Linked DNA regions of Homo sapiens. The protein of the gene in region 2 purifies or fractionates together with the protein of the main gene of each other region. This does not show direct contact. Each region holds a gene or a part of one and is shown on either strand. Other genes may lie near its edges.

Region 1 (3,821 bases), on a different chromosome or scaffold from region 2:
GGAACATTTTGGATTTTGGATTTCCAGATTAGGGCTGCTCAAATGGTATGTTTTCTCAAATATTCCAAGACCCAGAAAAATCCAAAATCTTTAACATTGCTGGTCCCAAGCATTGTTCAGATAAGGAAAATTCAATTTATATTTCAAACTGCCAAGTTTCTCCTCTATTATTTAGGCTTAGCCTCTCTGCATTAAACAAGGAGCTTTTGGAGAGCAGGAACCGTGCTTTGTTCATTTTTGTGTCCCCGGTACCCAACCCACTGTTTGGCATATGGTAGATGCTAATGTTGAATAAATGAAATGGTACTAGACTTCTAATCTAAAGTCATTAACACCCATAGGAAATCATAATCTTGAAATACAAAAAAAGCAGAATTGTAAGAGAAGCACTCCCTGACAATATGAGAAAGCAATGGCTGCAAATAATTAGATTACCAGTTGAAACACATTTGAAATTACTGTCCATTCTCACATAATTTTTTTTTTTTTTTTTTTTTGAGACAGAGTCCCACTCTGTTGCCCAGGCTGGAGTGCAGTGGCGCAATCTCAGCTCACTGCAACCTCCGACTTCTGGGTTCAAGCGATTCTCTTGCCTCAGCCTCCTGAGCTGCTTGACTTACAGGCACCTGCCACCAAGCCTGGCTAATTTTTTTGTATTTTTAGTAGAGACTGGGTTTTACCATGTTGGCCAGGCTGGTCTCAAATTCCTGACCTCAGGTGATCCACCCGCCACAGCCTCCCAAAGTGGTGGGATTACAGACGTGAGCCACTGTGCCTGGCCCATTCTTACATAATTTTAAACATTCATCCACAGCCCAGATACATATCTTTTGAGGCCATAATTTAAAAAGCACTAATGGCAGTCATGTTTACCTCTGATTGTTTCTGATTAAGTAGTCCATGTAATTACATTTTATTATAAGTACTTTTTCTCTTATGAGTGAACACTAATTTTTAAAATTTGTTTCTAGATTTTAAACATTAGTCTAATAAACATAAAATTAGTTTCCTGAAGCATTAAAGCATTAACAGAATTTTAAAGATGAGGTAGAACCCTAAAAGGGGTTTTAAGAACATATGGCACAAACAAATCGTTATTTTCTCTAGGATACCAAGTTTCCTCCTTCCATTAGAGAGGAATACTTTCCTTAAGCAGCATGACAGGATGTCATACCTGTGTGAAGGATAGAGAACTGCAGTCTCCAGGTCTGTCACTGTTTCCTCCTTCGGGCACTAGGAATTTCAAACAAGAACTGCTTTTAAAGTTATAAATCACTACCCAAATTCAAATACTAATGAATCCAATTCAAAGTGAGTTAAAATAAGCAATTCCTTATCCAATTACATTATGCAGAATAGAATTTGACATTTGCTTAGAAAAAATCATACTTAAAGCTTATAGAACATTTTCCCCCTTATTTTCATAGCCCTTATAGTGAAAGGTTCAGTCCTGGTAATAAACGGATATAAGAAGCCTACTATTGCAGGAAGGAATAAACAAAAAAACCTCAAGGAAATAAGAAGCCCATGTCACCAATTGAGGCTTTAAACCAAGGTTTTCAAGAATTGGGGGAAAGGAATATAAACAAGTTGTAATGAGTTAGCAAATTTCTAGAGTAAAGAGATATATGCAGTCAAGAGCCTGCACTGCATGTAACAGATTGTGGCTTTGGCAGCAATTCTGGACCTCAGTTTCCTCATCTATAAAATGAAGCTAATACAGTTGCCCTCCCCAGATCATTGTGAAGGATTGCTGAGATGATAAAATATGTGAAGACACTTTGTAACACAAAGCACCAATACACTGACTATTACCTTAGTTCTTATAGTTCTTATAAGTGTTTTTCAAAGAAAATAAAGGTATTTTTTCTAGCAAGACCTAATCATTTTCAACACTGCCACCTTCACCCTCCCAACCTTTTATAAAGTGATTTTCCCTCTTACTGCTTATGTTAAAAAATTAAGCATTTAGACAAAGGAGCATTAAACATTATTATGTAAATTAAGTAGAAATAATTTGCGAAGGTGACTGGAACATATTCTTCAGTCCATCTGTTTTGAAAGACTGATTGTTACTTGAGATGGCAACTTCTATGTTTAACACAGCATACACCATTTCCTCTGCTCTCTATTTAATTACTGGCAAATTTAGCATCTGCCCTTAATGGATTCACTGGTAACTACATTCGGATGTTATTAATATTTAATAAAGCTTTACTTTTTTTACATAATTACATAATTTAAGAGCTCTTCAGTCGTAGCGCCTTTTACTTCATTAACTAAGTTTACTACCCACCTACGCCCCCCTGCCCCATAAAAAGAAATAGATCTTGAGTTTTGTAGGCAAAGAATACTACAATATTCCAAAAATGTCTCTAATTAACTGTAATTATACATACTTTGAGAAAATAACCTATCTTTGTTCTTTATTATCTCAAATTATGCCTTTGTCTTCTGCAAATTAAGCAGACCACAGAGACCAGTTCTTGAAAAACAAGATTCCTTCTCCATGTTAAGACTACTTAAATAATAATATTTCTTCTTGATGTTCATGTATGTATATGCATTTGACACTACTTGTATCAAGGAAATTTTCCTTGAACTGCCTATATTCTGCCTTTCCTTGCACTGCCTATATTCCCTCAAATTTTTTTTTTTTTTTGAGACAGGGTCTCCCTCTGTCACCCAGACTGGAATGCAGTAGCATTCCAGTCACTGCTCACTGTAACCTCGACCTCCCAGGCTCAAGTGATCCTCCTGTCTCAGACCCCGCAAGTAGCTGGGACTACAGGCACATGCCACAATACACAGCTGATTTTTGTATTTTTTGTAGAGATGGGGTTTTGCCATCTTTCCCAGGCTGTTCTCCAACTCCTGGGCTAAACCAATCCACCCACTTTGGCCTCCCAAAGTGCTGGGATTATAGGCGTGGGCCACCTTGCCTGGGCCCCTCTTTCTATTTTGATTACTTAAATTGGAGAGGGATGTTAGGTGGGAGAGACACAGAGAACAAAGAAGAAACAAATAGAAGATTCAGAAAGGATTGCTGTGCTACTTAAGGATTTCTCTATTCTGGCTAAACCAGTATTGCCAAAGTCTCAAGCAGATCACAAGCTTATTTCTAACAGGTCTTTTCAGAGTAAGTGACAGAGGGAATCAACATGGGTCAAGAAGCAGTTAATGAATGGCAAGTAGCCAGGCAGGTTACCACAAAGCAGGTTTGCAGACTCATGGGATGAAATATAGGCACTTTGAGTCTGGCAAAGACTAAAACACAAGAATGATAAGACTGCCTAGGGCCAACCAGATTTATGCAATGGTAGTTTCTTCTGGAGTTTACTCAGTGTTCTGAATACTTCCTTCTGGCTCCCTCCTTAGCCTTGATTCAAAGAAGTGGTTGGAGAAGTTCATTGCCTACACATTTTGGTATGTAAACTATAAAATATAAACAGTTACCTATTGATCTTTCTCATTGTTACAGGAGATAAATCTAGGAAATTAAGAACAAGTTGGCAACCTTTCCTCCTTAGGAGCAAGCAAGTAAAAACTAATGTTAAGAAAGACTTGCTCAAACCTGTACACTCTGGTATAGTTCTCCAAGTAAAAAGCATGGACATCCCTGCCTCCTCCCAGAGTTACTGGTCTGCGTATCAGAGATTCTACTCATCTTCAAGGCCCTGTTCTAAGTCACCTCTTCCTGGAAGCTTTCCTCGATAAATCACACAGAAAATAAGTTTTCTAATCAGGGACCTGCACTTCTACAGAGGTAGGTCATTCATACCCAAGTCTACATAGCCTACTCTCTATGGAAAACTAGTTAT
Region 2 (3,821 bases):
AACATAAACACAAAGAAAAACTTCTCCAGATTGTTGTATAGGGGCTCCAGGAGAAAAGTCTGGGGGCAGAGGGATGGTAATGATGTGATTGAACAGTCAGGAAATATGTTACATGTTTGACAAACACACTGGAGAGTTCAACAAAAAATACCAATTGGTATTAGACAAAACCAAAGACAAGCGTTATGGCCGGGCACAGTGACTCACGCCTGTAATCCCAGCACTTTGGGAGGCCAAGGCAGGTGGATCACTTGGGGCCAGGAGTTTGAGACCAGCCTGGCCAACATGGCAAAACCCCATCTCTACTAAAAATACAAAAATTAGCTGGGCTTAGTAATCCCAGCTACTCAGGAGGCTGAAGCACAAGAATCACTTGAACCTGGGGGGCAGAGGTTGCGGTGAGCCAAGATTGTACCACTGCACTCCAGCCTAGGTGACAGAGCGAGACCCTGTCTCAAAATAATAATAATAATAATAATAAAGGCAAGGATTGTCAACTCCAAGAGAAACAAAGGGCTATACAAAAAGGAACCATGATCATATTTACTGTTAGCTTAACAGTGAAAAACATTTGTTTAAATCATAGTATTATAAACCTTGACTACTAATTTAACAAAATACTGTTAAATAACTGATGAGGGTATAGATGAAAAGGAATTGTGTGGAGAGAGAGAGAGTGATCATCTTTCTCCTAAAGTCAATAAATGAAAAAAAAACAGTAAATGCATATTTAAGAATAAAAGAATAAGTAGGCCAGGCATAGTGGCTCATGCCTGTAATTCCAGCACTTTGAGAGGCTGAAGCAGGAGGATAGCTTGAGGCCAGGAGTTCAAGACAAGTCTGGGCAACATAGTGAGACCCAGTCTCTATAAAAAAATAAAAATAATTTAGCTGGGTGTGGTAATGCACGACTGCAGTACTAGTTACTCAGGAGGCTGAGGTGGGAGAGTTGCTTGAATACAGGAGTTCGAGGCTGCAGGGAGTTATGATTGCACCACTGCACTCCAGCCTGGGTGACAGAATGAGACCCTGTCTCTAAAAGAAAAAAAGAAAGAAAAGAGCAAATAGCAGGGAAGGGAAACAGCCAAAAGCGCAAAAGTGTTGCTTATGAAAATATAGAAATACAATACATAAATATAATATAAAATAGGAAAAGGGCCTGAAAGGTGGAGAAAGTCACTGTTACCTTTTTAAAATAAGCCTCAGAATTTTTTTTTGGGGGGGGGGGTTCAGATGTATTAGTATTACATTAATTTAAATATATACATATAATATTGTTTTCTTTTTTCTTTTTTTTTCTGAGACGGAGTCTCGCTCTGTCGCCCAGGCTGGAGTGCAGTGGCGCAATCTCGGCTCACTGCAAGCTCCGCCTCCCAGGTTCACGCCATTCTCCTGCCTCAGCCTCCCGAGTAGCTAGGACTACAGGCACCGGCCACCACACCCGGCTAATTTTTTGTATTTTTAGTAGAGACGGGGTTTCACCGTGTTAGCCAGGATGGCCTCGATCTCCTGACCTCGTGATCCACCCGTCTCGGCCCCCCAAAGTGCTGTGATCACAGGCATGAGCCACCGCGACAGGCCAATTTTTTTTTCTTAAAAGACGAGATCTCGCCATGTTGACCAGGTTGGTCTTGAACTGCTGCACTCAAGTGATTGGCCTGGGATTACAGGTGTGGGCCACCAAGCCTGGTCTAAAAGTATATATTTTGGTGGCTAAAATTAAAATTAAAAATCTCTATGACTGCAAGATGTAATCAAAGCTGGAGGTTGGAAGCATAAAGCTCAAATAGGTAACTAGTCCCAAACCAAGTCATTGAAATCAGACACTTGTAAAAGCATGCTTTCCTCCCCCCTTTTAATTAGACCTCTTCAAAAATCAGAAGTCTTATCACCATTGCTTTGATGTTACAAACAGACTTCAAAACATCTGACGGATCTTATAATTTCTCCAATTTATCAGAGGAAGAAAGTACTTCTCTTGCTAATATTTTCATAACTGATTAAAACCTTAATTTCTACTATGTGCTGTCAGTCATGAGAGTCTACATGAAATGCTTTAGTCTAATCACATTAATGCTCATTTTTATGATAATGTTTATACATTACACTTGATAAATATCTAAACAAAGCATAACATTTTTTCCCAATAAAGGTAACTCTTTGGAAAGACAGACCTGCCTTTACGCTTTTAAAAAATACATACCGATAGGCCGGGTGCGGTGGCTCACACCTGTAATCCCAGCACTTTGGGAGGCCGAGGCGGGTGAATACCTGAGGTCAGGAGTTTGAGACCAGCCTGGCCAACATGGTGAAACCCCGTCTCTACTAAAAATACAAAAATTAGCCGGGCGTGGTGACGCACGTCTGTAATCCCAGCTACTCAGGAGGCTGAGGCGGGAGAATTGGTTGAACTCAGGAGGCGGAGGTTGCAGTGAGCCGAGATCACACCACTGCACTCCAACCTGCGCAACAGAGCGAGACTCCGTCTCAAAAAAAAAAAAAAAAAATACATACCAATAAACCAATAGAATATATAAACCAGTTATAAACCTAAAACTTTTACTAAAATGATTCCAAACCCTTTCACAATTTCCTTTGAAGTTTGGCTTTTATCTAACACAAGCAACACACTCTGCTCCATTAATTTTAAGTATCTCTGAACTAGACATGTTTAGGCTTAGAAATAATGAAGTTAGAGCTATTCAAACATATGCACTCATGGATAATAATTGCTAATTGGTATACACACACTCAAACCTACTTATTGTGGTTTGCTTTAAAAATAGACAAATTGATTTAATAAAAACCAGTTCAAACATGGCATTTAGGAAAAGTGATTTGCTTACCTCTGTTGGTTTGTAGCAGTCTACAAGAGCTTCCTAGAATTAAACACACAGAAAATCAGTTTTATTATTTTAAAATTCAGCATTATTTTTAAGGCAAAATTAAAAATCATTTTATATTCATAGTATTATTTTATAATGGTAAATCAAGATTTCATACTATCTAGAAACGCACTTCATTTCAGCACCAGTTGGTAGTCTGAAGATAGAAAACGTTTAACCTTCATAAATTCTTCAGCCTGCATACACATGTGCTACATAGAAGTTTTTTGAACAGGAAAATATTTATTTTTTTTTTTTGCTACCATAGCATTGAAAACAAAATATAACCCTTGACCAGTTTTGTTTGTTTGTTTGTTTGTTTTGAGACAGAATCTCGCTCTGTCACCCAGACTAGAGTGCAGTGGTGCGATCTCAGCTCATTGCAACTTCTGCCTCCCAGTTCAAGTGATTCTCCTGCCTCAGCCTTCCGAATAGCTGGGACTACAGGTGTGCACCACCACACCCGGCTAGTTTTTGTATTTTTAGTAGAGACAGGTTTTTGCCCTGTTAGCCAGGCTGGTCTCGAACTCCCGACCTCAGGTGATCCACCCGCCTTGGCCTCCCAAAGCACTGGGATTACAGGCGTGAGCTACCATGCCCAGCCCCTTGACCAGGTTTTGAATGTCTTGCTGAGGAAAAAAGCTTCTTTTAAAAAAGGACAGGGATGCTCAAGCATCCATTAGGTTGCAGACTTCAGAGAGATGTGGACTAATTTAGTAGCTCAAATCCAGGATGGCCTTCCACAGGAACCAAATCCCCCTTTCCGGTTTTCCTTCAATTAACTGGATATAACCCGGCAGGATCCAAATGGTTTCAAACCCACTCCTCTGGTCAATGACTTTTTACCTCCTCTGTATGCACACGCGCATGCACACACCTTTCCTTTGGCTGCCAACTTGGTGGATATTCAAGTTGAGCCAGCCTGTGCAAGATGGT

Evidence for each region.
Region 1: the proteins of PPP1R14C (region 2) and HMGCS1 purify together in Homo sapiens (affinity purification with mass spectrometry; one large-scale study listed by BioGRID and IntAct). This does not show direct contact.

The regions. Positions count from the first base shown.
Region 1 is NC_000005.10:43,306,592-43,310,412, forward strand, and holds part of HMGCS1 (hydroxymethylglutaryl-CoA synthase, cytoplasmic), read right to left. Parts: intron 1,254-3,821; exon of another isoform or gene 1,234-1,253; 5' UTR 1,175-1,233; intron 1-1,174. UniProt on the Homo sapiens protein: Catalyzes the condensation of acetyl-CoA with acetoacetyl-CoA to form HMG-CoA, which is converted by HMG-CoA reductase (HMGCR) into mevalonate, a precursor for cholesterol synthesis.
Region 2 is NC_000006.12:150,215,882-150,219,702, reverse strand, and holds part of PPP1R14C (protein phosphatase 1 regulatory subunit 14C), read right to left. Parts: intron 2,880-3,821; coding exon 2,847-2,879; intron 1-2,846. UniProt on the Homo sapiens protein: Inhibitor of the PP1 regulatory subunit PPP1CA.